Linked DNA regions of Homo sapiens. The protein of the gene in region 1 purifies or fractionates together with the protein of each later gene. This does not show direct contact. Each region holds a gene or a part of one and is shown on either strand. Other genes may lie near its edges.

Region 1 (3,918 bases):
GCAAAACCCTGTCTCTCCAAAAAATATGTATATTAAAAAAATTAGCCAGGCATGGTGGTGTGTGCCTGTAGTACCAGCTACTCGGGAGACTGAGGTGGGAGGATCGCTTGAGCCTGGAGGTCAAGGCTGCAATGAGCTGAGATTGTACCACTGCACTCCAGTCGGGGCAACAGAGCAAGACCCTGTCACAACAGAAACAAAATCTTGAGGTGTCTAGTCCTGGCCTCAGCCTCAGAGTATTTGTTTCTGAACTTGTTAGTTTTGGGGGTTGGGGATGCTGGTTTGATTTCCTCCTTTTTGCCTTTTGAGTGTGTGCAATTTATGGTATAGCTGGGAAACGTAAAAGTCAAGAGTTTTGTAGGAAAATCACGTCACTTAGCCCTGTCTCCTGTGCCGGACGAGTCCTGTGTGTGCACTTGGTGACAATGGCTTTGAGTCTTCAACTCCAGATTGAGGTCAGCCTTACACATCCATAGTTCCCAAAGCTGAAAACAGGCCTGCCTCCAACGGTACCTGCTAACATCTGGGGAGCTTTTCAGCTTACAGAGCACCCTGTATGTGTTTGTCTTAGTTCAGGCCACCATCTCCAGCTTACCAGGCTCTAGAACCTTCTCCACACTTTGCCAACAGGGTTCGTTTGCAGAATTGAAACCTTAGTTAAGGTTTGTTGAGGTTGTTGTTGTTGTTGTTGTTTTTACAATTGGCTATTCCCACCCACATTCCCTTGAGACATAAATAGAAAAAAAAAAGAGGTTTCCTGAGTAGGACAAGACATTTGAGCTGCATCCACTTGATCCTTGAAAAGGAAATCTAAGAGGTTGTAACTATCACTTTTTCTAGCCTATATAAGGTAGGTCAGTAAGGTAGCAAAAGCACATCTGTTGTTTTGCTCCTTCAACTCTTTTTCCTGATTCTTCCTGGGGGAAAACCTAAAACGGTGAGTAACTGGTGGACCCATCAGACCCCAGACTCTTCTTCACTGCATGCATTCATATTAGGCTCAGGTGCTTAGACTCCTGTTTTCCCATGGCTCTGACATCTGGAAGGATTTTAATCTCTGGGAGATGGGCTTTTCATCCATCTGCTTCCCACCTTTCAGGACAGGTAGCATGTCTTCTTCCACAGAATGTCTGCAAGCAGCCCAAACTGTATCCTTTCCCACGTGGAATTTGCAACAGTGCATCTCTCGGACTGCTGTAGGAAAATGCCAGTGCATTTGTAACATGGTTTACGGCTGCCTATGCAAATGACTGATTATGTCAGTATAATTTTTATAAGAAAACAATTGAATCCTTCTTTGGGTCATGTTTTTTTTTTTCATTTTTGGCATATATTCAAAAGAAGGCTCTGAGACAAAAAGGGCTGGGGTCTTTTTGGTATCTGGTTTTAATTTGGATATTCTGTCCCGTCACTTAATACAAAACCATGCTTATCACATTTTAAAAATTCTAGACAGGCCTGGCTTGGTGGCTTATGCCTGTAATCCCAGCAGTTTGTGAGGCCAAGGCAGGCAGATCACATGAGGTCAGGAGCTCGAGACCAGGCTGGCAAACATGGCAAAACCCCATCTCTACTAAAAACACAAAAATCAGCCAGGCCTGGTAGTGCGCACCTGTAATCCCAGCTACTCGGAAGGCTGAGGCAGGAGAATCACTTGAGCCCAGGAGGTGGAGGTTGCAGTGAGCCAAGATTGTGCCACTGCACTCCAGCCTGGGTGACAGAGTGAGACTCCATCTCAAAAAAAAAAAAAAAAAAAATCTAGACACACATACAGTTTCAGTGGGCCTGGGAAGATGTGTTTCCCCTGGATGTGCACGTTCCTGTTTGTGGCTTATCGCCTCTCGTTTATTCTGTGTGAGTAGGTAGAAAATGAGCATCACGGACGTGCTCAGTGCTGATGACATTGCAGCAGCGCTCCAGGAATGCCAAGGTAGAGGGGACGTGGGGCGGGGGTGGGATTTCCTCACAGCTTTGCCCCTCCAGCGAGGCAACACAAAATCAAAATGTAGGCCAGGCGGCCAGACGCAGTGGCTCACGCCTGTAATCCTAGCACTTTGGGAGGCTGAGGTGGGTGGATCACGAGGTCAGGAGTTTGAGACCAGCCTGGCCAAGATGGTGAAACCCCATCTCTAATAAAAATACAAAAAAATTAGCCAGGCGTGGTGGTGGGCACCTGTAATCCCAGCTACTCGGGAGGCTGAGGCTGAGAATTGCTTGAACCCGGCCTTTTTTGTAGACTCTGTCTACAAAAAAAAAAAAAATGTAGACCAGGCATGGTGGCTCACATCCGTAATCCCAACACTTTTCGGAGGCCAAGGTGAGAGGACTGTTTGAGCCCAGGAGTTTGAGACCAGCCTGGGCAACATAACAAGACTCCATCTCTACAACATAACAATAAAAATAAAAACTAGCGGGGCATGGTGGCATGTGCCTGTGGTCCCAGCTACTCTGGAAACTAAGGTAGGAGGATCACTCAAGCCCAGGAGGTTGAGGCTGTGGTGAGCTATGATCGCTACACTGCACTCCAGCCTGGACGACAGAGTGAGACTCTGTCTCTAAATAAATAAATAAATAAATAAATAAATAAGTAAATAAGAGCTTGGCTGGAAAATTCATGGAATCAGAGAAGAAAACTACTATTTATTAGATAACTAAAATTATAGAGATCTGGGATCTGAGCACACGATTACACTTCTGTAAGACAAAAGAAACCTACTAAACATGAAAGCAAGAAATCACTGAAGGGCCAGGTGTGGTGCTCACACCTGTAATCCCAGCACTTTGGGAGGCCAAGGCCGGTGCATCACTTGAGGTCAGGAGTTCAAGACCAACCTGGCCAGCCTGACAAAACCCTGTCTCTATTAAAAATACAAAAATGAGCTGGGCATGGGGGTGCATGCCTGTAATCCCAGCTACTCGGGAGGCTGAGGCAGGAGAATCAGTTGAACCTGGGAGGCAGAGGTTGCAGTGAGCCGAGATCACGCCACTGCACTCCAGCCTGGCGACAGAGTGAGACTCTGTCTCAAAAAAAAAAAAAAAAGAAAGAAAGAAATCGCCAAAGGCCATTTAGCCTGTTGAAATCCAGTGATTGCATTTCCCCCTACCAATTAGACCAGGGATGTTGGGGGCTCGGCCACACAGCCTGTAAAGTGGGCCAGGGGGAGGGGGAGGCACAGAGGAGAGGAGGAGGGAAAAGGAAAATGGACAAAACCAAGTGGAGGAGGGAAGACCGGGGCGGAGGGGACATGGGATGCCATCACAGAGCCATCAAGTCTTGGCTGTCCCAAAATCTTAGACCAGTTGAGCATCCCCGTAGCTCAGGGATATTGTTGAAGTGTTTTTAATCATCTGTGTTTTCAGTACCTTGGCCCCAACATAGAATGTGATCCAATGAGTGTCAGAATAACCCATTCTCTGTTCTTCAGACCCAGACACTTTTGAACCCCAAAAATTCTTCCAGACGTCAGGCCTCTCCAAGATGTCAGCCAGTCAGGTGAAGGATGTTTTCCGGTTCATAGACAACGACCAGAGCGGGTATCTGGATGAAGAAGAGCTTAAGTAAGCTTTGTCCTGAGGCTGTCTGGTACCTGGCACTGCTGGGTGGGCCTGGGGTGCAGTGGGGGCCAGGTTGCTCAGTATTTCTTCAATGGCCAGCCTTGGTGTTGGTCATTCGGCCAAGCATCATTAAAGCAAAGGACATGAGTCAGTTGACCGCACATCTACCCATGCAAAGCCCTCAACATGGGCAGTGAAGACTACAGGTGCAAAGATTCTTTTTTTTTTTTGAGACAGGGCCTCACTGTCACCCAGGCTGGAGTGCAGTGGGGTGATCTCAGCTCCCTGCAGCCTCCGCCTTCCAAACTCAAGTGATTCTCATGCCTCAGTCTCCCAAGTGGCTGGGATTACAGGTGCTTGCCA
Region 2 (3,818 bases), on another chromosome or scaffold:
TCTTGCTTTGTAGCCCAGGCTGAAGTGCAGTGGCGCCATCTCGGTTCACTGCAACCTCCACCTCCTGGGTTCACGCAGTTCTCCTGCCTCAGCCTGCCGAGTAGCTGGGATTACAGGTGCCCACCACCACACCTGGCTAATTTTTGTATTTTTAATAGAGACGGGGTTTCACCATGTTGGCCGGCTGGTCTCGAACTCTACCTGCCTCGGCCTCCCAAAGTGCTGGGGTTACAGGCGTGAGCCACCGTGCCTGGCCTGTGCCACCTTTTGTGCAAATACAAAATCAAGGCCATGAGTGGTGGCTCATACCTGTAATCCCAGCACTTTGGGAGGCCGAGGTAGGTGGCTCACTTGAGGTCAGGAGTTCAAGACCAGCCTGGCCAACACGGTGAAACCACAACTCTACTAAAAATACAAAAAAATTAGCCAGGCTTCGTGGCACATGCCTGTGATCTCAGCTACTGGGGAGGCTGAGGCAGGAGAATCACTTGAACCCAGGAGGCGGAGGCTGCAGTGAACAGAGATTGCTCCACTGCACTCCAGCCTGGGCAACAGAGCAATATTCCATCTGAAAAAAAAAAAATACAAAATCACAGTCTTAGGTAAGTGCTTTAAAATTGTGTGAGGTGCATTGGGAGCATAGGGGAAGGAGCCCTAAATCTATATGGGAAGGAGAGGAAGGTTTCACATAGCAGGTAGCAATTGTATTATAAAAATTGACTAAGAGTTTCAGACAGAGAAAATATAGCAGAGAAAATAGCCACGTCATGGAGGGGTGAGAGAATGTGGTGTGTTTAATAGTTGAGTATCAACAATAAAGTGGGAAAAGATAATAGATTTAAAAATGGTTAGGTAGGATTGATCAAATTTAGAGATTGTTTATGGGTGTGAAGGTCAAAGAGGAGTCCAAGGATACTTACAGGTTTTGGGGTTTATGGTGATACCATTTACTGAGGGGTTAGAACAGGATTTTGGAGGAAGTACTAAGTGCAGTTTGAGGTCTGTTGTGTTTAAAGGGCTTGTGGGACATTCAAGTGGTAAACTGCACAAGGAGGCATTTGCACATAAAAATCTGGGATTTGAGATTAGAAAGTTATCTACTTGGAGATGTAGGGCTTCCAGATAAAATACAGGATGCCAGGTTAAATTTGACTATCAAATAAACAATGGTGATTTTTACTATAAGTGTATTGCTTGCAATACTTGGAACATAATTATTCTAAAATAGCACTATTTCAGCTATAGCTAAAAAGAAGGTTTCCTTTTCCTGTAAGATAGCAGGACAGTTTGCTGAGCAATTTGTAGGTAAGGTGGAGGGGGCTGAGGGATGTTGAGGGAGTTCTTAGTTACTTGTTTTTACCTGGTGCAATTGAAACATCAATGAGCAGGAAAGATGTGGAGTTGGGACTCGTGAGCTATGAAGGTTTAGAAAAATTACTTTGTGAGGTAAAAGAAACTGGTCAGGGAAATATAACAGAAATACTAGAAAAATTTTAGAAATTGAGTTGATAAGGCAAAGAAATTTTTATTGAATCTGGCCGGGCGCGGTGGCTCATGCCTATAATCCCAGCACTTTGGGAGGCCGAGACGGGCAGATCACGAGGTCAGGAGATCGAGACCATCCTGGCTAACACGGTGAAACCCCGTCTCTACTAAAAATACAAAAAAATTAGCCAGGCATGGTGGTGGGCGCCTGTAGTCCCAGCTACTCCGGAGGCTGAGGCAGGAGAATGTCGTGAACCTGGGAGGCGGAGCTTGTAGTGAGCCGAGATCGTCCACTGCATTCCAGCATGGGTGACAGAGCGAGATTCTGTCTCCAAAAAAAAAAAAAAAATTTTATTGAATCTTAAACACTCATTTTGGTAATTTGAAGATGTATATAATATTTTTAATGTCCTCTTCATTTTGCAAGTGTCAATAAATATTGTTATTTAAGTATAATGTTTAAGAACATGCACTTTGGATTGAATAGACTTAGATTCCTTCATTTAGCAAGTATTTATTAAATGCCAGTTATGAAACTAATAAATAAGTATGAGAACTAGCATTTTGGCCAGGTGCAGTGGCTCACGCCTGTACTCCCAGCACTCTGGGAGGCCAAGGCGGGCAGATCACCTGAGGTCAGGAGTTCGAGACCAGCCTGACCAACATGGAGAAACCCCGTCTCTACTAAAAATACAAAATTAGCCAGGCGTGGTGGCGCATGCCTGTAATCCCAGCTACTGGGGAGGCCGAGGGAGGAGAATCGATTGAACCCTGGAGGTGGAGGTTGTGGTGAGCTGAGATCCGCCATTGCACTCCAGCCTGGGCAACAAGAGCGAAACTCCATCTCAAAAGAAAAAAAAAAAGAACTAGCATTTTGTGTACATATCGTGCTTGCTTTTGACTAACTGTAAGATGTCATTCTGTATACCTTATTTATATTAAGTCATTTGCCCCCTCCCTCCCCGTTGGCCCTATGGGTTAGGTAATATTATCTTTATTTTACAGATAAAGAAATTGAAACTAAGAAAGATTAAATAGCTTGTTTAGGAGTCAAGATCATATCTGTTTCTGTCTGCTGTTAGAACCTATAGTCATTACTGTTATGTTGACTGTGTTGGGCGATTGGGTATACAGGGGTGAGAAAAACAGGTATTGTCCATAATGGATGTGATCTTTTTAGTCTAATGTGTGTGTAGGGGGAAGGATGAATGTTAAGCATTAATCAAATTATCCAAATAAGCAATGAAATGATTTACTATGGTAACTGCTGTGAGAGAAAGGAGATGGGAGAGACTACTGCAACAGGGGAACTTAATTTCAGTTGGACCAGAGTTTGAATTCATTGTAGTAATTACTTTATATTTTCACATCTATGACAGTGCTATCTTGGGTTTTAGAACAGAGAGACTGGCTGGGTGCGGTGGCTCATGCCTGTAATCCCAGCACTTTGGGAGGTGGAGGTGGGTGGGTCACCTGAGGTCAGGAGTTCAAGACCAGCCTGACCAACATGGTGAAACTCTGTCTCTACTAAAAATACAAAAATTAGCTGGGCATGGTGGTGAGTGCCTGTAATCCCAGCTACCCAGGAGGCTGAGGATCACTTGAACCCGGGAGGGAGAGGTTGCAGTGAGCCGAGATGGCACCATTGCACTCCAGCCTGGGCTACAGAGCGAGACTCCGTCTCAAAAAGAAAAAAAAAACAAAACAGAGAGACTGGGTTTGATTCCCATCTGTGCACGTAGTCTCTTTGTGACCTTGGGCAAGTTGCTGAACATCTCTTAGCTTCACTTTCCTCATCTATAAAGAAGGCATATCTTATAGAGAGCACCTCTTTGGGTGCTCATAATACATATCATGGGAAGTGGTGAATTAATGCAATGGTTCCTAGTTTTTGGCATTTAATAGTCTAAAGAAATTTCTAAAGTAACTTTGGAACTAACATAGCTACTCATTTATTTTGCTATGTGTGGAGAGATTAAAAATACAACTGCCATTTATTACCATCATTGATTCAGAAAAGTAAGACTTTTTAAAAAACTTCCTGTTTTGAAATATGTAAGGGTATTTTAACATTAAAAAAAAGGATGGTTGCAATTTCAGAATAAAGATAGGCATTTACATTTTAAAAATGTTTCATGATTACATTTTGTTTTAAAACGTTTTAAAGAATGTGGTAAGAATAAATAGGATTTTGTCTGTGATGATTTTATGTATAATGAGCAGATTGCATTGACACTCTTGTATCTTTTCTGCCATTAACAGAAAAGGCAGCTTGTAAATCTAAAATGATTGAAATCCAAACTCTAAATCATTCAGATTTAACTTTTCTTTTT

The links.
Region 2: the proteins of OCM2 (region 1) and ZMYM6 purify together in Homo sapiens (affinity purification with mass spectrometry; one large-scale study listed by BioGRID and IntAct). This does not show direct contact.

What each region holds. Positions count from the first base shown.
Region 1 is NC_000007.14:97,988,056-97,991,973, reverse strand, and holds the start of OCM2 (oncomodulin-2), read left to right. Parts: upstream 1-1,777; 5' UTR 1,778-1,869; coding exon 1,870-1,930; intron 1,931-3,425; coding exon 3,426-3,558; intron 3,559-3,918.
Region 2 is NC_000001.11:35,021,640-35,025,457, reverse strand, and holds part of ZMYM6 (zinc finger MYM-type protein 6), read left to right. Parts: intron 1-3,818. UniProt on the Homo sapiens protein: Plays a role in the regulation of cell morphology and cytoskeletal organization.